Linked DNA regions of Homo sapiens: regions 1, 3 and 4 are each linked to region 2. The links come from fine-mapping of genetic effects on gene expression. A gene starts in region 2. Each other region holds a variant in brackets. All regions are shown on one strand. Distances are between the middles of the regions.

Region 1 (5,926 bases), 43 kb before region 2:
CCAGCCTGGCCAACATGGTGAAACCCTGTCTCTACTAAAAATACAAAATTAGCTGGGCGTGGTGGCACACACCTGTAATCCCAGCTACTTGGGAGTCTAAGACATGAGAATTGCTTAAACCTGGGAGGTGGGGTTGCAATGAGTTGAGATCAGGCTGCTGCACTCCAGGCTGGGTGACAGAGCAAGACTGTCTCAAAAAAATTTTTTTTAATAAAATAAAATATAGAAATGAGGTCTCACTGTGTTGCCTGCCAGGTTGGTCTTGAACTCCTGGGCTCAAGTGATCCCCCGTCTCATCTTCCAAAGTGCTGGGAGTACAGGTGTGAGCCACCGTGCCTGGCCAAGACTAGGTGACTTTTTTGTTTTGAGACGGAGTCTCACTCTGTTGCCCAGGCTGGAGTTAAATGGCCTGATCTCAGCTCACTTGCAACCTCTGCCTCCCGGGTTCAAGCAATTCTCCTGCCTCAGCCTCCTGAGTAGCTGGGACTACAGGCACGGACCACCATGCCATGCTAATTTTTCTATTTTTAGTAGAGATGGGGTTTTACTATGTTGGCCAGGCTGGTCTTGAACTCCTGACCTCATGATCCACCCACCTCGGCCTCCCAAAGTGCTGGGATTACAGGTGTGAGCCACCGCACCTGGCCCAAGGCTAGGTGACTTTTAAGGTTTCTTCCAAATCTTTGCATTTGTGACTCTTACTGCAAATGATGCATAAAATTAAATATATAGATGAGGCACAGTGGCTCATGCCTGTAAGCCCAGCACTTTAGGAGGCCAAAATGGGAGGATCACTTTAAGCCAGGTCAGGAGTTCAAGACCAGCCTGGGCAACAAAGTGAGACCCGCCCCCCCATCTCTACAAAAAGTTAAAAAAATTAGCCAGGTATGGCAGTGATTACTTGAGCCTAGGGTTGGAGGCTGCAGTGAGCTGTGATCATGCCACTGCACTGTAGCTTAAGTGACGAAGTAAGACCCCCATCTCAAAGAAAACAAAACAAGAATTATATCTCCCTCTGTCACCCAGGCTGGAGTGCAGTGCCAGTTATAGCTCACTGCAGCCTCAAACTCCCAGGCTCAAGTGATCCTCCTGCCTCAGCCTCCCAAGTAGCTAGGACTACAGGCACACACCACGAAGCCCTGCTAATGTTTTTTTGTAGAGACAGGATCTTACCATGTTGCCAACCTAGTCTTGAACTCCTGGCCTCAAGCAGTCCTCCTGCCTTGGCCTCCCAAAGTGTTGAGATTACAGGCATGAGCCACCACGCCTGGCCTTTATTAATATATTGACTATAAATTACACTTAACTATTTTTACCTGAAGTCAGGGTTTTTTAGAGTAGTCTTCGAATTTATGGAAATGAACTTATACAACTTTGAAATTATAGATCCTTAAATTTACCAGAAAATCTCTTAGGCTTTCTTTAGCTACAAAAAATTTTTATTGTGCCAGTGATGTATAATTGGTAAGAATTGGCATAGTGCTAGAACACTGTAATTATTCAGTTTGCTTTAAAACATTGCATATGTTCACTAATAATCCTTTCAATTAAGTGAAAATTTTATACTAGCTTTTTCATTATGAAAGTAATACACAGAATGATAAATTCAAACAATAAAGAATGGTATCATATAACTTTCCCCCTTACCTCTTAGTCCCACTCTGTAGAGGTAATCATTGCAAAGAATTTCCCCCATCACACATGCACACACATACACACACACACACACACACACACACACACACAGATGGGCTCATGTTATACTAATGACCTGCAATTTGATTTTTGTATTTAGCATATCTTGAATATCTTACTATACTAGAATTTTTAGTTCTACATCATTCTTTTTAAAAACTGGTTATTCTGTATGGATGCCATTTAGGTCACATATATTTGAACATGCATCTTTTTTTGTGTGTGCGTGTCACCCAGGCTGGAGCGCAGTGGCACCATCTCAGCTCACTGCAGCCTCTGCCTCCCAGGCTCAAGCGATCCTCCTACCTCAGCCTCCCAAGTACCTGGGGCTACAGGTGTGTGCCACCACACTTGGCTAATTTTGTATTTTTTTGTAGAGACAGGGTCTCCCTATATTGCCCATACTGGTCTTGACCTCCTGGGCTCAAGCATCCTCCTGCCTCAGCCTCCCAAAATGCTGGGATTACAAGTGTGAGCCACCCACCATACCGGCCTAGGCCATTTAGAGAAGAGGCGTAGCATCCTATTTGACTTACCATTGCCTGTACTCCTTTGAAGTATAATAGGTTCCATGTAGAAAAATCTGCTGTATAAAGACTTGATAATTAAAAGGGAGTTATTGCGAAATATTAATAAAAGGGGAGGGAAGTTGTTGCAGGACTCTAAGGATTGAGTAGTCAGTACGTGAAATGTGGCTGTTGAGTAATGAGATTGACTGTTCAATGTTATGGCCCAATGAGAATGTTTGCCCACGTAAATGATTTATTTAAGAAGTCATATAAATGGAGGAAACATGGCTGGGCGTGGTGGCTCACCCCTGTAATCCTAGCGCTTTGGGAGGCTGAGGCGGACAGATCACCTGAGGTCAGGAGTTTGAGATCAGCCTGGCCAACATGGTGAAACTCCGTCTCTGCTAAAAATACAAAAAAAAAAAAAAA[AT/T]TAGCCGGGCGTGGTAGTGGGTGCCTGGAATCCCAGCTACTCAGGAGGCTGAGGCACAAGAATTGCTTGAACCCAGGAGGTGGAGGTTGCAGTGAGCGGAGGTTGTGCCACTGCACTCCAGCCTGTATGAGAGAGAGAAGAGAGAAAAGAGAGAGAGAAAAAGAAACTGACTCTATCTAAAAAAAGAAATTTTAAAAAGACAACCCAAGACGTGACAAAAAAGTAAGGTCCACATGAAGGGGCTGAAGTTCTGATTCCTGGAAGTCCAGGTACTGGGTATGTTGTGCGGGCAGAGTATGATCTCTGAGCTGGAGGTTCCGGGGGAAGCTTGGCAAGTAAAGAAGGTGTGAGATAATGGCACCAACCATTTCTAATGTATGCATAATGGAGGAGTGTTCTCAAAACCCTGTGTATCCCCACATATTCTGAGAAAGTGTTTTGTATAGGGTTACCGCAGAGATTTGAACTGTCTTGCAAATCACCATGAAGGGCTGAGCAGAGCTTCGGTATTCAGTCTTGAAAGCAATTTAGAGTCCAAATATTTGAAGTCAGGATTGAGCTTCTCCCTCTTGTAGCTTTTTTCTCTGGCCAAACCTAACAATTCCAGATTTGGGGGGACAGGAGAACTGAAATTGAAGAACCATTTTATCATTTTACTGAATTATTGGTCTGCTTCCTTGGTCACGGATGGTTCCTCTACAGGAATTTGATCTGTTATGGCCGCCATGGGTCTTATGAGAACTCCAGTCTCAGTAGGAATGGCACAATTGTCCCACCTAGCTGCCCCATTTATATATATATATATATATTTCTTTTTTTTTCTTTTTTTCCTTTTTTTTTTTTTTGAGACAGAGTCTCTGTCACCCAGGCTGGAGTGCAGTGGCGCGACCTCAGCTCACTGCAACCTCTGCCTCCTGGGTTCAAGCGATCCTCCTGCCTGAGCCTCCTCAGTAGCTGGGATTACAGGTATGTGCCACCACGCCCAGCTAATTTTTATATTTTTAGTAGAGACGGGGTTTCACCGGGTTGGACAAGCTGGTCTCAAACTTCTGACCTCAAGTGATCCACCAGCCTTGACCTCCCAAAGTGTTCGGATTACAGGCATGAGCCACTGCGCCCAGCCTATTTCTTTCTTAGCTTCTTTTTTTGTTTTTAAGAGACAGGGTCCTGCTCTGTTGCCCAGGCTGTGGTGTGATCATAGCACACTGTAGCCTTGAACTCCTAGGCTCAAGTGATCCTCTCGCCTGTCTCCTGAGTAGGTAGGACTACAGGCATGTGCCACCACACCCAACAAATTTGTTTTGTTTTGTTTGAGGCAGGATCTCACTTTGCTGCCTAGGCTGGAGGGCAGTGGCACCATCATAGCTCACTGCAGCCTTGACCTCCTGGGCTCAAGCGATTCTCCCACCTCAGCCATCCAAAGTGCTGGGATTACAGGTATGTGCCACTGTGCCCAGCTCTAATTTTTATTTTTCGTAGAGACAGGATCTTGCCATGTGGTCCTTGCTGATCTGAACTCCTGGCTTCAAGCGAGCCTCCCACCTTAGCCTTCCAAAGTGCTGGGATTATAGGCGTGAGCCACCACACCCAGCCTATATATTATGTCATTAGGAGTAATCCTACATCATTCTGCTTCTCCTGCAAATGCTCTACTTTCTTAGTTGTGAGTTAAGGCTTTCCCTGCTAGAATGCTTGCTTTTAGTTTGTGATTAATTTTTGTTTCATTATACCAACTCCAAAACTTAAATGAGGAAGAATATCCTACCACTGCAAAATGGAGTGAGTTGGGAAAGATGCCCTTTGTGACATGGGAGTAATGCCACCAGCACTGTTTTTTCTGCATACTTTATTTCTCCTTCCTGGTTCTTTTAGTGACCTTGTATTTTATCTTCAACCTTGAATTTTCATCTATTTCCACTTCTTCCTTCTTCTTTTCACGTCTTTGTTCACACATTCTCTACAGCATTTCCCCTGTAGTGTTCCTTGTGAACATAGGCCTAAGCTAAAATCTATCTTGCTTGAAAATTTATTTATTTATTTATTTTTCTTGAGGTGGGGTCTTGCTTTGTCACTCAGACTGGAGTGCAGTGGCACTATCTCGGCTCACTGCAAGCTCTGCCTCCCGAGTTCAAGTGATTCTCCTGCCTCAGACTCCCAAGTAGCTGAGATTACAGGCGCCTGCCACCATGCCCGGCTGATTTTTGTATTTTTAGTAGAGACAGGGTTTCACCATATTGGCCAGGCTGGTCTCGAACTCTTGACCTTGTGATCCACCCACCTGCGCCTCCCAAAGTGCTGGGATTACAGGCATGAACCACCGCGCCTGGCCAAAAATTTCAAGTAAGTCTAGCATTTGCATTTTCAAATTCAGACACTGAAAAGTTTATATGAATTAAAGTTTTCAATTGGATTAATATCAATTATAAGGGAACTTGCTATTTAAACTAATATTATTGTATTATTTGTTGTCTTATTGTACTATTTTTTACTGATATGGTATTTTGGGACATGAGTTATAACTGGTTTACCTATTATGCGAATCTCTGTTTTCATGTATTAGATATGTTTAAGATGAGGTGCACATTTTAATTAATGTAGATTCTTGTTTTCTTTTCCTTTTTTTGTGTGGTGGGAGGACAGAGTTTCACTTTTGTCGCCCAGGCTGGAGTGCAATGGCGCATATGACTTCTTTGGTGTTTGTGCTTTCAGTTTGCTGTGGCACTCTTTTTCTCAGATTTACACATACTGTTCTCTTTTTGTTAGTGTGGAATTAGTCACAAAGAGGTGCCTGTCTCTCTAGATCTGGAATATAATATAATTAAATGTCAATTAGTGAAGTAGCATAACAACTTTAGGGCTAAGTCTACAGATACCTTTTCAGAAAAACAAACACAATGCCTTAGATTTTTATTTTAACTCTTTTTCTCTAAGAATTTCAACATATTATATCCTCTGTCCTATTTATTTTCACCTCTCTGGGGAATGTGTTCTCGTTTATCTTTTGGTGGTAAGAGGTAGTTGATACAGTATATATTTTGGTGTCAGATAGGCCTGCATTCAAATCCCAGATCCTTCTCTTCCTGGATATGACTTTGGACAGAGTAATCTTTCAAGCCTCAATTTTATCATCTTAACCCTATGAATTAAGTATTAAAAAGGAGGTAATACTTAATTCATAGAGTTATTTGAGAGTTTTAAAGGGATTATGAGTGTAAAACAGTTTATACTGAATACTATACACCTGTTCATTAGCTCAATAATCTAAGGATACTACTGACTATAAGATCACCTT
Region 2 (5,926 bases):
TTTATCAATGATTTACATGTCATTATATGATGTCTCGATTGTCTTCAAAATAATACATAAGGCAAGTATATAAATAGGATTGGCAGCCATGAGTTATGATAATGAAGTGAGGTTAATACATGGAAGTTTGTTACACTACTCTCTCTACATCTGTGTGTGTTTAAAAATTTCCATAATAGTTGGCCGGGCGCGGTGGCTCAAGCCTGTAATCCCAGCACTTTGGGAAGCCGAGGCAGGCGGATCACGAGGTCAGGAGTTAGAGACCAGCCTGGCCAATATGGTGAAACCCCACCTCTACTAAAAATAAAAAAATTAGCCTGGTGTGGTGGCAGGCGCCTGTATTCCCAGCTACTTGGGAGGCTAAGGCAGGAGAATTGCTTGAATCCGGGAAGCAGAGGTTGCAGTGAACCGAGATCATGCCATTGCACTCCAGCCTGGGCGACACGGTGAGACTCAAAAAAAAAAAAAATTCATAATAAAAAGTTTAAAAACAAACACAAATGCTTTCATCCCTTTCTCTCATTTGATCCTATTTATCTACATGAAAACAGAAAAAGCAGCCAATTTTATCTCTACAAATTAAGGATAAGTAATTTTTCAAGTCCATGAAGCTAGTAATAATTATGATAATGTTCAGATTTGACAATGTAGTTTATTATAGTGTTATGATAAAAGCATAGAGCATATTATAGATTTGGTGCAAAAGCAATTGTGGTTTTTGCCACTGAAAGCCAAAAGCCGCAATTACTTTTGCACCAACTTATAATACTGTTAGGTAACATTTAGATGAAAATAAGTTAACATTTACTTGGCACTTACTAGGGATCAGGACCTGTTCTAGGTACTTTACATGTATCAATTTTTAAAGTCTTCACAATCATGTGATAAATAGGTAGGTTCCATTACTCCCATTTTACACATAAGAAAACCAAGGAAAGAGGGGTTAATTAATTAGTCCAATCGCACAGTGACGAACTGGGATTTGAATCAGGCAATCTGGCTCCAGAGTAGACACTTGACACGATACATATCTTCTCCTAGTAACTAAGGATCTCTGATTTGAAACAAAACATTTAGAAACCAAGTATTATGTAGGGCTATTGCCACTACAACATACTACCTAATATAGATTCATAACAAGGGTTAGACCTCATTTTCCTATGGGTAAGTCAACTGATACATCACAGGGCAGGTCTATACAGCCACAGATCCCTGCCGTGTGCAAGGCAAAAAATTTCTACTATAGCCAGGTGTGTGGTTAAGAAAGTACGAGAACATACCTATATTCTCCCTCCCTCATGTTGCTGTCATAAGTTGTTTCTCATAACATCTTTCTAGAAACATTCTCAAGAAGTGCTAATTTATAGGAATTAGTTTAAGGCGCAGGCATTTATGAAATATAAGATATCTCGGCTCACATCCCCATAGCAGAACCTGCAAATGATCTTATTTATGCTAACTCTTTGACCCTGCCCAAGAGCTGATTCCGGAATTTCTATTGTAGTTTCGTTTTTACCTTTCATGAAGATTGTGTACAGGACATAGAAGCGGGGGAAATGACGACCCAAGAAACGATGGTATTTCCCATTAATCGCTTTTGTCTTGGTTACCACATAAGACATCAAGTTCTTCACATCTGCCTTTGGAGAAAGGTGAAGCTTTGAAGACCTACAAGGAAGATCAAAGAGACTATCTGGGAATCAGTCCTAGAAGCTCCCTCACGCCTTGAGTCCCTAATGTAAAGCAGGAGTCTCGGAGATTGTATCCCAAGGCTTGACACTTCTGAAATCCAAGGAAGGTCTTGGGGTCAAGAAGAGATAGGCAATCAGACTGTGAAACACAAATCAGGCAAAGGCCAGGCAGGAAAGTAACTCAGGGTATGCCTCTGGAGAGAGCGCAATGCCTGTGGGACAATTTGAACTGCAGGCTAAGTCAGAAAGAGGTGGAATCGAGATAGCAGCGGTAAAACCTGAGCCGAAAAAGTGAGGCTGAAAGATGAGCTCAGGACACGCGGGGAAACCAGACAATATGGGGCACTGAGAGTACAGAGGGTCAGGAAGCCGGGTCACTAGTGGGGATCGGAGTTTGAATCCTGAACAGAAGAATAAAAATTCCAGGGCCAAGGCGTGGAACTCTGAGAATTAAGAGACAGAATGCAAGCAAGGTTGAGACACTGAAAGAGCCTGGACGTCAAAAATGCTTTTCTCGCTACAGGTCCCTCACCGAGGGGCCCCCCAAGCCAGGCCAGAGCGACCAAGTTGCAGCCTCCGGGTGACAAAATGTCCAGGGGTGACTGCCGAGCCCCACACAGCCGACCGAGCCCAGCACACCCTGGAGAGCGCCATCTTCACAGCGAGAGAAGCGGGAGAGAAGAGGTTGTCTTTGGGTCAAAGTTAACCGTACGTCGCGTTCGTTCGAAGACGCATGCGTCTTTTCTGAGCGCTGATTGGTAGCCATAGCCTGCTTGGCTCCAGCACAAGCCAGGAGAGGGAAGGACTCAAAGACTAAGTGCGGAAGGAGGGCCAGGATTGGACACAGCAGTACTTCCAGGTTTAAAGGCGCCGGAAACAGGGTGTCCCAGAGGGAGCGAGTTCTTATGCCACTGGTGTGGGTTTGCGACGCGGAGGGCACCCTGTCCTTGAGGCGCCCAGTGACCCTCCGCGATTCCTTAGGGCCTCAGGGCTTCCCAGCGCCGCCCTTGCCCTCTGCCTGGACTCGGGGCGTCGGAGCCTCGACTGTTAGGTAGCAGATGTCAGTTTGCCAGTGCCTGGGGCTAGGAGGACCCGCGGCGCCCTCTAATGGTGCCGGCGTGGATAGGCCGGGAACTGTCCACTTTCCAGTCAGTCTGGCGGCGAAGGTTGGAGGCCTGGGAGCGGCCCCTGTGCGGACTGAGTACACTTTTTCCTCTCTTTGTCGTTTCCAGAACTAAGTTTGTGGGAAAATGGTTTTCGTTAAGCACCTACCGAAGACCAAGCTCTGTCTCAACTTAAATGTTACTATTCTGAGAGGATTTCTGTGACCACCCTATCTGAAGCAGTGCCGGCGAAAAGGACACACTTCACACTTATTCTCATGTTACTCTGTTTTGTTTTGTTTTGTTGTTTTGTTTTTGTGACAGTTTTGCTCTGTCGCCCCGGCTGGAGTGCAGTGGCGCGATCTTGGCTCACTGCAGCCTCCGCCTCCCGGGTTCAAGCGATTCTCCTGCCTCAGCCTCCCGAGTATCTGGGATTACAGGCGTCCGCCACCACGCCCGGCTAATTTTTGTATTTTTAGTAGAGACGGGATCTCACTATGTTGGTCAGGCTGGTCTTCAACTCCTGGCCTCAAGTGATCCGCCAGCCTTGGCCTCCCAAAGTGCTGGGATTACAGGCGTGAGCCACTGCACCCGGCCTTGTATTTTCTTTGTAGCATCTGTCACTTACAGTGTTTATGTATTTGTGTCCTTGTTTGACAGCTCCCTGAACTAGAATGAGGGTAAGCATCTTCTCTGCCTTGTTCATTGCTGCACCTCCAACACTAGGTGCCTTACTTAGCACATAGTAGGTGTTCAGTAAACATGTTTGAATAGATTCATACTTGAAACTAAGAAGGATTCCCAGAAGTGGTACTTAACTGCCTCCAAGAATTAACAGTCCTCTTGGATATATATGAATATTTATTCTTCATGGAAGGTGGTAGAGCATCCCATGTGGGTTCCCTGGATATAGGTTCAATCTTGGCATTGACGTTTGTTTTAGTGAATGTTACCTTGGATATGTCACTTTAGCTCTGAGTTTATTTCCCTTATAATAGTACCTACTTTATAAGAAATCTTTGAGGATCCAAAGAGAATACAGCTGTGAAAGCTCCCACATCTGTATAATGCTTTATGGGTCACAGAGCTTTATATTAGCACAGGTTATTAATGACTGTACCACTCGTGCAGTCAGAGGAAAAGTTTTAAAAGATGGCCCTGGATCTTCACAAGTGTTGGGTAGATGGGGTGGACGGGATAGAAAGTTGACTAAGACGGCTGGGCGCCGTGGCTCATGCCTGTAATCCCAGCACTTTGGGAGGCCGAAGCGGGCTGATTACCCGAGGTCAGGAGTTCGAGACCAGCCTGGACAACATGGTGAAACCTCATCTCTACTAAGAATACAAAAATTAGCCGGATGTGGTGGTGGGCGCCTGTAATCCCAGCTACTCGGGAGGCTGAGGCAGGAGAATCGCTTTAACCCAGGAGGCGGAGGTTGAGGTGAGCCAAGATCGCACCACTGCACTCCAGCCTGGGCAACAGAGTGAGACTGTCTCAAAAAAAAAAAAAAAAAAAAAAAAGTTGACTAAGACATGGTCTTCATATTCAGGTAGTTTTTTTTTTTGTTTTTTTTTTTTTTGGAGACAGAGTCTCACTCTGTCACCCAGGCTGGAGTGCAGTGGCGCAATTTCAGCTCACTGCAACCTTCATCTCCCGGATTCAAGTGATTCTCCTGCCTCAGCCTCCCAAGTAGCTGGGTTTACAGGCGCCCGCCACCATGCCCAGACAACTTTTGTATTCTTTTTTTTTTTTTTTGACACGGAGTCTCGCTCTGTTGCCCAGGCTGGAGTGCAGTGGCGCAATCTCGGCTCACTGCAACTTCCGCCTCCCGGATTCACACCATTCTCCTGCATCAGCCTCCCGAGTAGCTGGGACTGCAGGTGCCCACCACCACACCTGGCTAATTTTTTGTATTTTCAGTAGAAACGGGGTTTCACCATGTTAGCCAGGATGGTCTTGATCTCCTGACCTCGTGATCCTCCCACCTCGGCCTCCCAAAGTGCTGGGATTAGAGGTGTGAGCCATCACACCCAGTCCAATTTTTGTATTCTTAGTAGAGACGCGGTTTCACCATGTTGGCCAGGCTAGTCTCGAACTCCTGAACTCAGGTGATCTGCCCACCTCAGCTTCGCAAAGTGCTGGGATTACAGGCGTGAGCCAACGTGCCCAGCCATCTTCAGGTAGCTTCTGAGTCATGTCAACTACTCAAGAATGTTCAGCTCTAAAATTCTGGAACTCTCTTGGAAAGGAGACAAAATCAGAATTTTGTGGAGAAAATAGGAAGGAACTGTGTCTGAAAGGATGGAGTAGAGGGGAAGGCATTTCATGCAATGAAAGAATGTGGCAGGAACACAGGTCATTCCTCAGACTTTTCTTTCTTTCTCTTCCTTCCTTTCCTTCCTTTTCTTTCTTTCCTTCCTCTCTTTCTTTCTCTTTCTCTCTTTCTTTCTTTCATAGGGTCTCGCTGTGTCGCCCAGGCTAGAGTGCAGTGGCCCCATCATGGCTCACTGCAGCCTTGATCTCCTGGGCTCAAGTGGTCCTCTCACCTCAGCCTCCCAAGTAGCTGGGATTACAGGCGCATGCCGCCACGCCCAGCTAATTTTTGTGTTTTTAGTAGAGATAGAGATTTGCCACGTTAGCCAGGCTGATCTTGAACTCCTAGACTCAAGCAATTCCCCTGCCTTGATCTCCCAAAGTGCTGGGATTACAGACTTGAGCCACTGCACCCAGCCCTTTCCTGAGATATTTATTTAGTGTTTAGGCCTCTTCCCCCTTTCCCCCGCTACACACACACACACACACACACACACACACACACACGCGCGTGCACACGCACACACACACACACACACACATGCATCTTGTTGGTTCTATCTTCTAGCTGTTCTTCAATCAGCCAGCTTCCTTCTATCTTCTCTGCCACCACCCTAGGCTAAGCTGCAAGCCTCTGGTCCCCACTTCTACAGCAGCCTCTTTACTGGTTTCCCTGCCATATGTTTTGTCCTCCCTCCAACCAGTTCTCCATGTTGTATGTAACCAGAGAGAGCTTTTAAAATTGCAAATCTAAGCTTGTCATTTCTCTTTATAAAACCTTTCAGGTTTCCGACTGGGCGCGGTGGCTCACGCCTGTAA
Region 3 (5,793 bases), 860 kb before region 2:
TGACCAGCACATTGCGGCTCTTGAAGTCGCGGTGGGCAATGGCTGGTTTGCCCTGTGTACCGAAGATCTCCACGTGCAGGTGCGCCAGGCCGCATGCCGCGGACACAGCTAGCCTCAGAGCCAGATGGGGCTCCAGCGTCTGTCTCTGCAGAAAGTCGTAGAGGGAGCCGTGCTCGTGGTAGTGCGTGATGAGCCACAGCTGCGTGCTCGAGTTGCGGGAGGTCATGTCTGAGGCGATGAAGCCTGTGTGCAGAAAGGTTGGGTGACTCAGCCAAGGGGCTGGGGCTAAGGGAGGCTGGAGTCGTCAGGGTCAGGGTGGGGTTGGGGGAGAGGGAATGGACTGGGTCACTGCTAAGCTAGGTCTGGGGGTGGGGGTTGATGTGGCTTAGGTCAGAGACAGAGCTGGAGTCAGAGGTTGGGTCTGGGCCTGGCTTAGTGGCTTGCACCTGTAATCCCAACACTTTGGGAGGCCAAGGCAAGAGCACTGCTTGAGCCTAGGAATTTGAGACCAGTCTGGGAAACATAGGGAGACCTCGTCTCTACAAAAAATAAAAAAGTTAGCTGGGCATGGTGGCACATGCCTGTGGTCCCAGCTACTCAAGAGGCTGAAGTGGGAGGATCACTTGAGCTCAAGAGATTGAGGCTCCAGTGAGATTGCACCACTGCATCCCAGCCTGGGTGACAGAGCGAGGCCCTGTCTCAAAAATTAAATTAAATTAAATTAAATTAAATTAAATTAAATTAAATTAAAAAAAGAGGTTGATGCTGCAGGTGGGCTGAGAGTCCTTCAGGGTTCTGTTAATGTCTGGAGGTCTGCAAACTTGAGCCCTGAGTGCAGGGGGGCAAAGCCCCAGGCCTGGCACAGCTGGCCTCTCCCCTTGCCTAGGATGTTGTCGTGTCTGAGCAACACTGTGTTATAGATCTCAGTCTCCCGGAACCAGGACTGTTCATCCCTCGAGGAGAAGATCTTGACGGCCACACTCTCACCGTGCCACAAGCCCCGCCACACTTCGCCATAGCGGCCTTTTCCTGATGGCCAGAGGGGAAGGTGAGGGTTACACACTGGGCACACAGAGCCCTGGAAGAGCCCCCCATCTTGATGCTGCGCTGCCTCCCTCGCCCACCCCACCCACAGAACCCCAGACCCTTAGGTTTAACTTAATCCAGACCCAAACCCAGTGGCAGGCCACCCCCAGCTGCCTCTCGTTCCACCCCGGTCCTGCAGAAAGAAGAACCTAGCCCTGGCCCGTCTCCAGCCCACTCCCTGCCCAGCAGAATTCCAATTCTGACCCAGGCCTGGCACCGCCTGTGATTCCAGTAGCCAAAAACTCCCTCACCCCTCCAGGCTCATGAGAGCCCTTGGTCCTCATCCACCGGGCTCACCCACTGCTCACCCACACACTCCACCAAGGCAACCTGCCGTGCCACTGTCCTCTGCACCAGGAAGGGGAGCCCTGAGCCACTCCCTGTGGTGCAGTCACTGTCCAGGAGGTCCTGGGGGTACGGAGAGGCCACTGAGAGGCTGCCACAACCAGCCACAGCCCCCTTCTCTATCCTCGACCTGGGACCTGCTGGGTCACTGCAAGCTCCTCACTCGCCCAGCTCCCCACCGGCTCTAATCTCTGGGTGACCCCTCTGATTCTGCAGTTCCTATCTGCCCCTCCTACACCCTGTGTCCCAGGTCCCCAGGCCCATACCCCCAACATGCTGTCGCCCTGCTCAGATGCTTTCAGGATGAGACTGGACTCTCCCAGCTCGCTGTGCAGGCCACGCTGCTTCTCCTGCCTCCGTCGGACATGCCACAGGCCCAGGACACCCAGGGCCACCAGGGCCAGCAAGGCCAGCACGGGGCCCAGGATCAGGGCCAGCTGGCCATCTGTTCCCGGCTGCTCCGAAGGAGGTTGGGTGGCTGAGGGAGGGGGACACTGAGGCTCAGCTTCCACTAGGTCAGCTCCCCCCACCTCGGGCCAGACCACTCTGCCAGTTAGATCCCAGAGTCCTGCCCACCCGCTCCCCCGCCCCCAGCCCCTTTATTGGCCAGAGCATGAGAGGAAAGGAGGGAAGGGAGGGCAGGGGCCAAGAAGATGGGGAGGGAGTGCTAGGGCAGCTGGACGTACCCTCCAGCACCAGGGACACGTTGTGGTTGCAGAGGTGGCTGTCGCAGCAGTAGTGGTTGACGAACTCGGTGGGGCGCCCCCTGCAGAGCTCCCTGTGCAAGTTCCCGCAGCCCCGATGTTCCTGGGGGTGCCTCCCCTCCTCCCGCACCAGCACTACTGTGCACCAGGCCCCCCGGCAGGTAGGCCCCTTGCAATGTGGGCTCTCACACGTGCAGGTCACCAGCGGGCCCCGAGACGGCTTCACAGGGTCTCCTGGAAGACACACCGGAAGCTCAGCCACTGTGGTCCCAGCTCCCCCAGGCTGAGCCCGACACCCATTTCTGTCCTACTGTCCCTCTCGTCTGACCCCTCAGACAAACACCTTGAAGCTTTGGTCTCTTACTTTCATCCTCAGTCATCCTTCCCTCAGAACCCTCCCCTCAGAGCAGCTGACACTCTGAAAAGCAG[G/C]CTTTTGTCCCCTCCTGGCTCCTAGGTCCTCCCCTCCCAGTTCTAGGCTGGGCTGGGCCCCCAGCCCCAGCCCTGAGTGCTCTCCCAGGCTTGGCCTGCCAACACCTGCTCTCCCTCCACCCCACATATAGGCTTCCACCCTAGTCTGACAGAGCTCCAGCCTGCAGGTCTGGATCAAGAGGAGAGCAAAGGAGGGCTGGGGTAGCTGGGGACTGAGTCTAATGGAGCCTCACTGTCCTCCACTCTCCAGTCAAGCTCCTACATTCTCCCCAGCTTCTCAAGTTCAGCCCCAGGCAGAGCTGATCTGGGCCCAGATAGCCCTTTCTGTATCCAGGTTCCTGTTTCCTAACTGCTCCCCCAGTACTCACCCTGGGTCACCAAGGCCATCAGCAGCATCAGAAGGCCTTTCCTGGGGGAGCCCAAGGTCATGGTCCCTGCAGAGAGGAGCAAGAGAGGTGGAGTAAGAGCCATGAAGTGTGACAGCCGCTGGCCGTGGCTCCCTCCTGCCCAGAGGAAATCACAGAGTTTTTTTTGGAGGGGAGGCAGGGAGGCCGCCTCCCTACTCCCTGCCGCCTGGCTTTGGGGCGGGGCCTGCAGGGGAAGTCCTGGTTCACTTCCCCATGGAAACCATCCTGTTAGAGGTGAAGGGTGGAGAGCAATGTTTAAGTGACTGAGAGCTTGGGGAAACCCTAGCTCTGCACTCCTGCTGCTGAGCTCAGACTGCAGGCAGGTTGGGAGAGCCGCAGGGAGCACCCAATTGGGGTAGAAGGAGCATCTCTCCAGCAGCTCCCCTTCTGTTCTGTGTCTCTTTCCCACTCCCTCACAGCTTCCACCCCTGCCTACCCTTTCTCAATGCCCCCCCAGCCCTGGCTGCCTCAAACATAAACAGGCTCCTGTCTTCGCTTCCTGCCATTCAGGGTCCTGCCAAGCCAGGAACAGGAATCAAGATTGTTTAGATTGGGGTCTGGATAGAACAGGCAGGAGTCACGCACAGCAGGGAACTGAGGGCATATTTTCAGGGTGGGCTGCAGCAGCCACAAGGTCTGGAGGGGCTTTTTAAATATGCCCTTAGTTCCTTGCTACCCTTAGTTCCTTGTGCCTGGGACACCCACATGACAGAATTCTAGGTGGACATCCTGTGAATCACAAAATCCAGCTCCTTGTTTTACAGAAGAGAGGAGTAAGGCTCATACAGGGAAGAAGACTTGTCCCGGGTCAGACAGGACTCACTGGCACCAGCAGGCGTACATCCCAGGTTTCCAGACTCCTAATCAAGTGCTCTCTTCGCTCTGTCCCTATCCAGTGGTGGCAGCCCATGTCTGAGCCCTCAGGGCTATAACAACCATGCAAAGCTCGGACGGGGCAGGGTCATGCCAGGTGTAGAGAAACCTCTCTGCAAGCTCACCAGAGTATAAGCTGCCCTCTCGGAGCTGTTCCCTGGCCCCCTTCTTTCCCCTTGCCATCTAGGAAAGGGTGGGTGGAGGGCCAGTGATGTGGCAGGGGAAGTGAAACACACTTAGACACTGAATGTTTGACCTTCCATGGCTGACTAGGGTTGAACTTTTCCAGAAGTTTGTTGGAGAGTGTTAGGGGGAGTAATTCTGGTCTATGATAGTCCCCAATCCAGGTCCCACACCAACTAGTGCTTCTGAAGCCACCCAGTCTTCATTTCTCACAGGTTTAGAACCAGAAGATATTGGCTAAAGCTGCAGCAAGAAGGACCCTGGTCAGACAGCAACAGGACTTTCTGAATGGTGGAGCATGTGCAGGTGTGTGTCTGGGGACTGGATCCTCAGGCAGGGCACAAGGCAGGGAGACTGTCCTTTGGCATGACATGGTGAGCCTGACAGGGCTGGGCACATGGCCACAGAGGCTTCAGAAAGCCCATAGTCTAAGAATGGTGCCAAATGAAGACCCAAGATGCTGAGGCTCTGAGGGCAGTATGGCTAGGGGTGGGGTAGGGGGGCTTCATAGGCCTCTCTGGCTGGTGGCAGGCCTGGCCTTCCTGCCTGGGCTTCCTCTGCCCCAGAGGCCCAGGCTGGGGGAGGAAACAGAGCCCTGGGCTGCTGCAGCTGTGTCCCCAGCCTCTGCCTGACCTCCTGCCTCTTGCCCCTCCCGCAGCCAGTGAGGACTCTGGCTAGCACTGTGCGGCAGGACTGACGGTGGGATGGGATGGAGAGAGCACCCTAGAGGAGCTGAATCTGCCCACTGGGGTACTAGCAGGAAGCCATCCTTGGCAGCCTTTGCTAGCCCAGAAAGCTGCAAAGGAGAGGGTTTGAGGTGGAAAGGAAAAAGTGGCTAACAATAAGGCTAAAATCCGGCATTCCTCTAGGATCCTCTGTCCGTACCTCTACTTCTCTGGCCGTGCCCCAGTCCACCCTCCTTCTACTTTATCACGCATCAGAATCACCTGAAGTGCTCACTGAGAAAAGCATATTCACTGGTTTCACCCTCACTCCAGACTCTGATTCAGTCCTGGAATCAGCAAGAAACATGCATTTTTTAAAAGTTCCCCAGGGAGTTCTGATCAGTTTGTGTGGGCACAACGCTAAGTCTGGTTCCTCTGCTTTCATTTTGCTGTACAGGGCCCTGCTGGGTGAGTGGGAGTGGGATGCAGAGGGAGGGGACACTCACTCCCACCCAGGATACTCCCCATCTACTACAGAAGGGACAGCCAAGGGTAAACACCAAAGCTGGGACGTGGTGACACTGTGGAGCGAGGCTGTCTGCATCTGCAGAACCCATCTATGGTCTAATCCTGGGAATGTGATGGAGTAAAATTGGGACTGTCCAATTTTTAACTGGACCCAGTGTGAGATCAAGTACAGGAGGATGCTGAGTCCCGACCAGTCCAAACTCAGAGCTGACTCTGTACGATTTACCCTGAAATCTGACTGTAGCACAGACAGACTCCTGGGGCCTGGCAGGATCCTTTCACTTCTAAGCAAAACTTTGTGAAAGATCTCCTGCTGACAGAAGCATCACTATTGTTGGCCAGAAATTACAGACGTTAAACTAATTTCAAACGTTAGCTAAACACTATGAAATACTTAATAATAACAGTTAACCTTCTCTGAGTACTAATTATGTGCTAAGTACTGAACTTGAATGGTTTATCTGATTTAATCATCACAACAGTCCAACGGGGGAAAGTGAGGCTCAGAGATGTTCAGTTTCTTGTCCATAGTCACTGAGCGTGTCTTAATAAACTTAAATTGCTGATAATAAA
Region 4 (5,926 bases), 100 kb before region 2:
AGAGACTCTGTCTCAACAACAATAACAACAAAAAATTAGGTCTTATTAATACTGTCCTAAGGTAACTGTTAATATCACCCTTCCTCACTCACCAAGGTGTACCTGTTTTAGTGATAAATTATATGATCACTTTCTTTAAAATGTTCATCAGATCATGCTACTTTTCTCCTAAAAACTGTCCAGTGGCTTCACATCTCACTGAATAAAAGCCACAGGTCTGTCAAGGATCCATATGGTCTGCTCCTCCAGCCATTGAATATACTCTTCCCCTGGCTTGCTCTGCTGCAGCCGCACCTGGTCTTAGGGCTCCAGTCTCACCTCAGTGTCTTTGCATTTGCAGTTACTCTTCCCGAAACATTCCTGTATGTTCCTTACTTCCTTTAGGTTTCTGCTCACATGTCTTTTTATCAGAGAGGCCTTCTAATGTCCTTCACGTAAAATAGCAAGAGCCTCCTCCCCCTCACCAGCACTCCTTGCTTTCTTTACCCCCTCTGCTTTATTTCTTCCCTAACATCTGATGTGTAATTCATTTGTTGGCTTCTCTCCCCAACTTCATGCTTCATAAAAGAAGGGATTTTCTTTTGTTCTCTACCCTCTGCCTACTGTTAGAATAGTGCCTAATAAGTAGTTTGCGCTGATGTGTTGAATGAATGAATTCACTATCTCCATTTTCTTAAAAAAGGCAAGTACTATAGCAGTTCCTGAGGCAACTATCTCTCTTCATTGAGACCTAAGTCTCTTTATTGAGACTGATTTTTGCCCTTTTGTTGTTGTTGTTTGCTGTGATTTTTCAGTACTTTTTTTCTTCATTTCTCCCCACTTCAATTATCATCTGTCCATCTTCCAAATCTTCTCTCTTTGTCTCAGAGTTGGTCAGTTGTTACTGTTCTTTACTTTCCCTTTCATTCTAAGTCTGTTATGATGGACAGTGTATTTAGATGAGATTCGCCCTGTTTTGCTGCAAACGTTATCCATTACTTTTTAAATTTTAAAATTAAAAAGAATTTTTAATTCATTACTTTTTAAAAAAAATTTTTTTTCTTTTTTTTTCGAGATGGAGGCTCGCTCTGTCGCCCAGGCTGGAGTGCAGTGGCACAATCTCGGCTCACTGCAACCTCCGCCTCCCGAGTTCAAACGATTCTCATGCCTCAGCCTCCCAAGTAGCTGGGATTCCAGGTGCCTGCCACCACGCCCAGCTAATTTTTGTATTTTCAGTAGAGAAGAGGTTTCGCCATGTTGGCCAGGCTGGTCTCAAACTCCTGACCTCAGGTGATCCGCCTGCCTTGGCCTCTCAAAGTGCTGGGATTACAGGCGTGAGCCACTGCACTCAGCCATACTTCACTACTTTTTAAAAGATGGCACTGCTGTAAAAATATAAAGACATGCTGAGAATGATTAAGTGCAAATTCAGGATAATGTTGCCTCTGGGAGTTGGAGGGGATGTAACTGAGGAAAAATATAGGGGGCTTCAACTGTTAATGCTGTATCTTAAGCTGCCTAGAGTGTACACAGTCATTTGTTACACTGTTTTATCTTTTTTATGTCTAAAATACCTTATAACAAATTAAAGGCTAGGTGCGGTGGCTCACCCTGTAATCCCAGCACTTTGGGAAGTTGAGGCAGGTGGATCACCTGAGGCCAGGAGTTCTAGACCAGCCTGGCCAACATGGCGAAACCCCGTCTCTACTAAAAATGCAAAAAATTAGCTGAGCGTGGTGATGCATGCCTGTAGTCCCAGCTACTCAGGAGGATGTGGCACGAGAATCGCTTGAACCTGGGAGGCAGAGATTGCAGTGAGCAAAGATCGTGCCACTGCACTCTGGCCTGGGTGACAGAGCGAGCCTCCATCTCGAAAAAAAAGAAAAAAAATTAAGAAAAAATTTATCTAACACGTAATCTATTTCTTCATTCTTTTAAGTTATGCTGTTACTCCTTTTTACTGTAAGTTCATAAATTTTCTTTGCTTTCCTACACTTTTCTTGTCCTCCTCTTATTATGGAAAACAACCTACAAAGCAGCAGTGCTGCCATTCCTTCCTTCTACTTTTTTTTTTAAGGTTTTTGGGGAACAGGTAGTGTTTGGTTACATTAATAAGTTCTTTAGTGGTGATTTCTGAGATTGTAGTGCACCTATCACCTGAGCAGTGTACAGTGTACCCAATGTATAGTCTTTTACCCCTCACCTCTTCCCATGCTTTCCCCTTGAGTCCCCAAAGTCCATTGTATTATACTTAAACATTTGTACCTCATAGCTTAGCTCCCACTTATGAATGAAAACATACGATGTTTGGTTTTCCATTCCTGAGTTACTTCACTTAGAGTAATGGGCTCTAGTTCCATCCAGCTTGCCGCAAATGCCATTGTTTCGTTCCTTTTATGGCTGAGTAATATTCTATGGTGTATATATACCACATTTTCTTTCTTTCTGTTTTTTTTTTTTTTTTTGAGATGGAGTCTTGCTCTGTTGCTCAGGCTGGAGTGCAGCAGCGCAGTCTTGGCACACTGCAGCCATCACCTCCTGGGTTCAAGAGATTCTCCTGCCTCAGCCTCCTGAGTAGCTGGAATTACAGGTGCCTGACACCACTCCAGGCTAATTTTTGTATTTTTAGTAGAGACAGGGTTTCGCCATATTGGTCAGGCTGGCCTCAAAGTCCTGACCTCAGGTGATCCGCCCACCTCGGCTTTCCAAAGTGCTGGGATTACAGATGTGAGCCACTGCACCTGGCCTATATACCACATTTTCTTTTCTTTTTCTTTTTTTTTTTTTTTTGAGACAGAGTCTCACTCTGTTGCCTAGGCTGGAGTGCAGTGGTGCAATCTCGGCTCACTGCAACCTCTTCCTCCTGGGTTCAAGTGATTCTCCTGCCTCAGCCTCCCAAGTAGCCTGGACTACAGGCGCCCGCCACCACGCCTGGCTGATTTTTGTATTTTTAGTAGAAATGGAGTTTCACCATATTGGCTAGGCTGGTCTTAAACTCCTGACCTTGTGATCCGCCCGCCTCGCCTCCCAAAGTGCTGGGATTACAGGTGTGGGCCACCACGCCCGGCCACCACATTTTCTTTATCCACTTGTTGATGGGCATTTGGGCTGGTTCCATATTTTTGCAATTGCAAATTGTCCTGCTATAAACATGCGTGTGCAAGTATCTTTTTCATATAATGACTTCTTTTCCTCTGGGTAGATACCCAGCAGTGGGATT[G/A]CTGGATCAAATGGTAGATAAACTTTTAGTTTTTTAAGGAATCTCCACACTGTTCTTCCTAGTGGTTGTACTATTTACATTCCCAGCAACAGTATAAAAGTGTTCCCTTTTTACCACATCCATGCCAACATCTATTTTTTTTTAATTTTTTGATTATGGCTATTCTTGCAGAAGTAAGGTGGTATTGCATGGAGGTTTTGATTTTCATTTCCCTGATAGTGATGTTGAGCATTTTTCCATATGCTTGTTGGCTATTTGTATGTCTTCTTTTGAGAATTGTCTATTCATATCCTTAGCCACTTTTTGATGGGATTGTTTGTTTTTTTTCTAGCTGATTTGTTTGAGTTCCTTGTGGATTCTGGATATTAGTCCTTTGTCAGATGTATAGATTGTGATTTTCTCCCACTCTGTGGGTTGTCTCTTTACTCTGCTGATTATTTCTGCTGTGCAGAAGCTTTTTAGTTTAATTAAGTCTCATCTGTTTATCTTTGTTTTTGTTGCATTTACTTTTGGGTTCTTGGTCATGAGGTCTTTGCCTAAGTCAGTGTCTAGAAGGGTTTTTTCCAATGTTATCTTCTAGAATTTTTATGGTTTCAAGTCTTAGATTTAAGTCTTTGCTCTACCTTAAGTTGATTTTTGTATAAGGTGAGAGATGAGGATCCAGTTTCATTCTCCTACATGTGGCTTGCCAGTTATCCCAGCCTTCCCTCTACTTTGTCACCTTCTCTCTTTCCCCCCCCACCTCTTCCTATCCTGGTCTCCCTTTATCTGCCTTGTTCATAGTAGTTTCCATTTGTTGCTGATAGTCGACTCTCACTATGCCTCAAGTAGAACCTAACAGAATAAACTTGGGACTTTGTGTACACAAATTGGTGTTCCAGTTTTCCTTTCACCAATGGTTTAATTTTCTTTCTTTCTTTCTTTCTTTCTTTTTTGAGATGAAGTCTTGCTGAGGCTGGAGTGCAGTGGCGCAATCTCGGCTCACTACAACCTCTGCCTCCTGGGTTCAGGTGATTCTCCTGCCTCAGCCTCCCGAGTAGCTGGGATTACAGGCATGTGTCACCACACCTGGCTAATTTTTGTATTTTTAGTAGAGATGGAGTTTCACTATATTGGCCAGGCTGGTCTCGCACTTCCGACCTCAGGTGATCTGCCTGCTTTGGGCTCCCAAAGTGCTGGGATTACAGGCGTGAGCCACTGTGCCCGGCCTAATGTTTTATATGCACAGCAAATCCTGGTTTATTCCCTCAGTCACTAAGCAGATTTTTACTCTATCATTCAGCAAACACTTGAGTGCCTACTATGTACTTGGTTTTGTACAACTTGATTCTGTAGCTTTGTCTTCACCATATGCTCCCATATGCAGGTGCTGAATCTAAATAAACAGGTTTCTGTCTTTCATTTGCTTACAATTTGATGGAGAAGATAAGACATGTATATAAATAAATGTGATACAGGCTGGAAATAAATATGCTAAAAGCACTTGAAGTGCTATAGGAATTCAGAACACAGAAATACTACTTCTGCCTCCTAAGGTGGTATCTGAAAGAAGGGTAAGATTTGGCCCTGCAAAGGTGGAGGAGAAATATATTCCAGGCAGAGGGATTATAGGAGCAATGGAATTGTTGGATTATGAGCTTGCTGTATCTTCCTACAAGATAATGCTAAATTATTGTTCTAGTATACTTAGAGGTCAGGTGTTTCGGTTCTGCATCCTAGCCATTATTTTAATTGTTCACTGTTGTAATTTTTGTGTGGAATAGTATTTTATTGTGGTTTTAATTTGTATTTTCCTAATTTCTTATGAGGCCAGCACCTTTTCATATGTTTGTGGGCCACTGATGTTTTCTCCTAAGAAGTAAGTATTTGAGTTTTTTGGGGGTATGGGGTGGGGGAGGGAGGTTTGGCCTTTTTCATATTAATTTATAGGAATCTTAAATATATTTTATTAATTTTTTTTTTGAGATAGGATCTCGCCGTGTCACCCAGGCTGGAGTGTAGTGGCACAAGCTTGACTCACTGCAGCCTCAAACTACTGGGCTCAGGCAGTCCTCCTACCTTAGCCTCCCGAGTAGCTGAGACAACAGCTGAGCATGCCACCATGCCTGGCTAATTTTTTATTTTTGTAGAGACGGAGTAATCTACAAAAGTGTTAAGATTACAGGTGTGAGCCATTATGGCCAGCCTCAAAAATATTTTAGATACTTATCTTTTGTCAGTTTTGTATGTAGTCAGTATATTCTGCCAGTTTGTGGCTTGTCATTTCCCTCTCTTTATGTGTCTTTGGTTCTAAGGTTCTTTTTTTGGTGGGGAGGGGGAAGGGACAGGGTCTTGCTCTGTCGACCAGGCTGGAGTGCAGTGGCAATCACAGCTCACTGCAGCCTCGAACTCCTGGGCTCAAGTGATCCTCCTGCCTCTGCCTGTCAAGGAGCTGGGACCACAGGTATGCACCACCATGCCTGGCTAATTTTTTGTATTTTTTGTGGAGACGGGGGTCTCCTTATGTTGCTGAGGCTAGTCTCAAACTCCTGGGCTCAGGCAGTTCTCCCACCTTGACCTACCTCAAAGTGTTGGGATTACAGGCATTAGCCACCATGCCTGGCCTAAAGTTCTTAACTTAGTATAATTTATGAATCTTTTATGGTATATGATTTTTGAGTCTTGTCTAAGAAAATCTTTTTTTTTTTTTTTTTTTTTTTTTTGAGATAGTCTTACTCCATCACCCAG

Direction of the effects. Alleles are on the strand shown, and positions count from the first base shown. SD is a standard deviation of normalised expression in the study named. Not every link is listed here.
In carriers of allele AT in region 1, the expression in monocytes after LPS of the gene that starts at base 2,375 in region 2 tends to be lower than with T alone (moderate effect, 0.42 SD a copy in Fairfax 2014).

Evidence for each region. PIP is the estimated chance that this variant, and not a neighbour inherited with it, causes the effect. A credible set is the group of variants that fine-mapping cannot tell apart.
Region 1: its variant is the best candidate, but not a certain one, in a credible set for the expression of LETMD1 in monocytes after LPS (Fairfax 2014, PIP 0.56).
Region 3: its variant is the best candidate, but not a certain one, in a credible set for the expression of LETMD1 in tibial nerve (GTEx, PIP 0.83).
Region 4: its variant is the best candidate, but not a certain one, in a credible set for the expression of LETMD1 in whole blood (TOPMed, PIP 0.70).

Annotation. Positions count from the first base shown.
Region 1 is chr12:51,087,420-51,093,345 of GRCh38, reverse strand. No RefSeq gene overlaps it. Among named protein-coding and RNA genes, the nearest start is that of CSRNP2, 6.8 kb to the right of the region's middle. The variant AT/T (reference allele first, on the strand shown) is at 2,634.
Region 2 is chr12:51,044,776-51,050,701 of GRCh38, reverse strand. LETMD1 (LETM1 domain containing 1) reads right to left here and starts at 2,375. Exons shown (of 9, transcript NM_015416.5): 1 at 2,224-2,375; 2 at 1,517-1,668. The coding sequence starts at 2,345. RefSeq lists enhancers at 1,592-2,130, 2,331-2,380, 2,131-2,669, 2,491-2,760, 2,851-2,930 and 1 more.
Region 3 is chr12:51,909,675-51,915,467 of GRCh38, reverse strand. It overlaps ACVRL1 (activin A receptor like type 1), which reads right to left. Exons shown (of 10, transcript NM_000020.3): 2 at 2,933-2,998; 3 at 2,118-2,369; 4 at 1,698-1,909; 5 at 1,395-1,494; 6 at 883-1,029; 7 at 1-243. The coding sequence starts at 2,993. Among named protein-coding and RNA genes, the nearest start is that of ACVRL1, 5.1 kb to the right of the region's middle. RefSeq lists enhancers at 1-666, 1,312-2,145. The variant G/C (reference allele first, on the strand shown) is at 2,565.
Region 4 is chr12:51,145,543-51,151,468 of GRCh38, reverse strand. The region is part of intron 1 of TFCP2 (transcription factor CP2); the gene reads left to right. Among named protein-coding and RNA genes, the nearest start is that of TFCP2, 25 kb to the left of the region's middle. The variant G/A (reference allele first, on the strand shown) is at 3,200.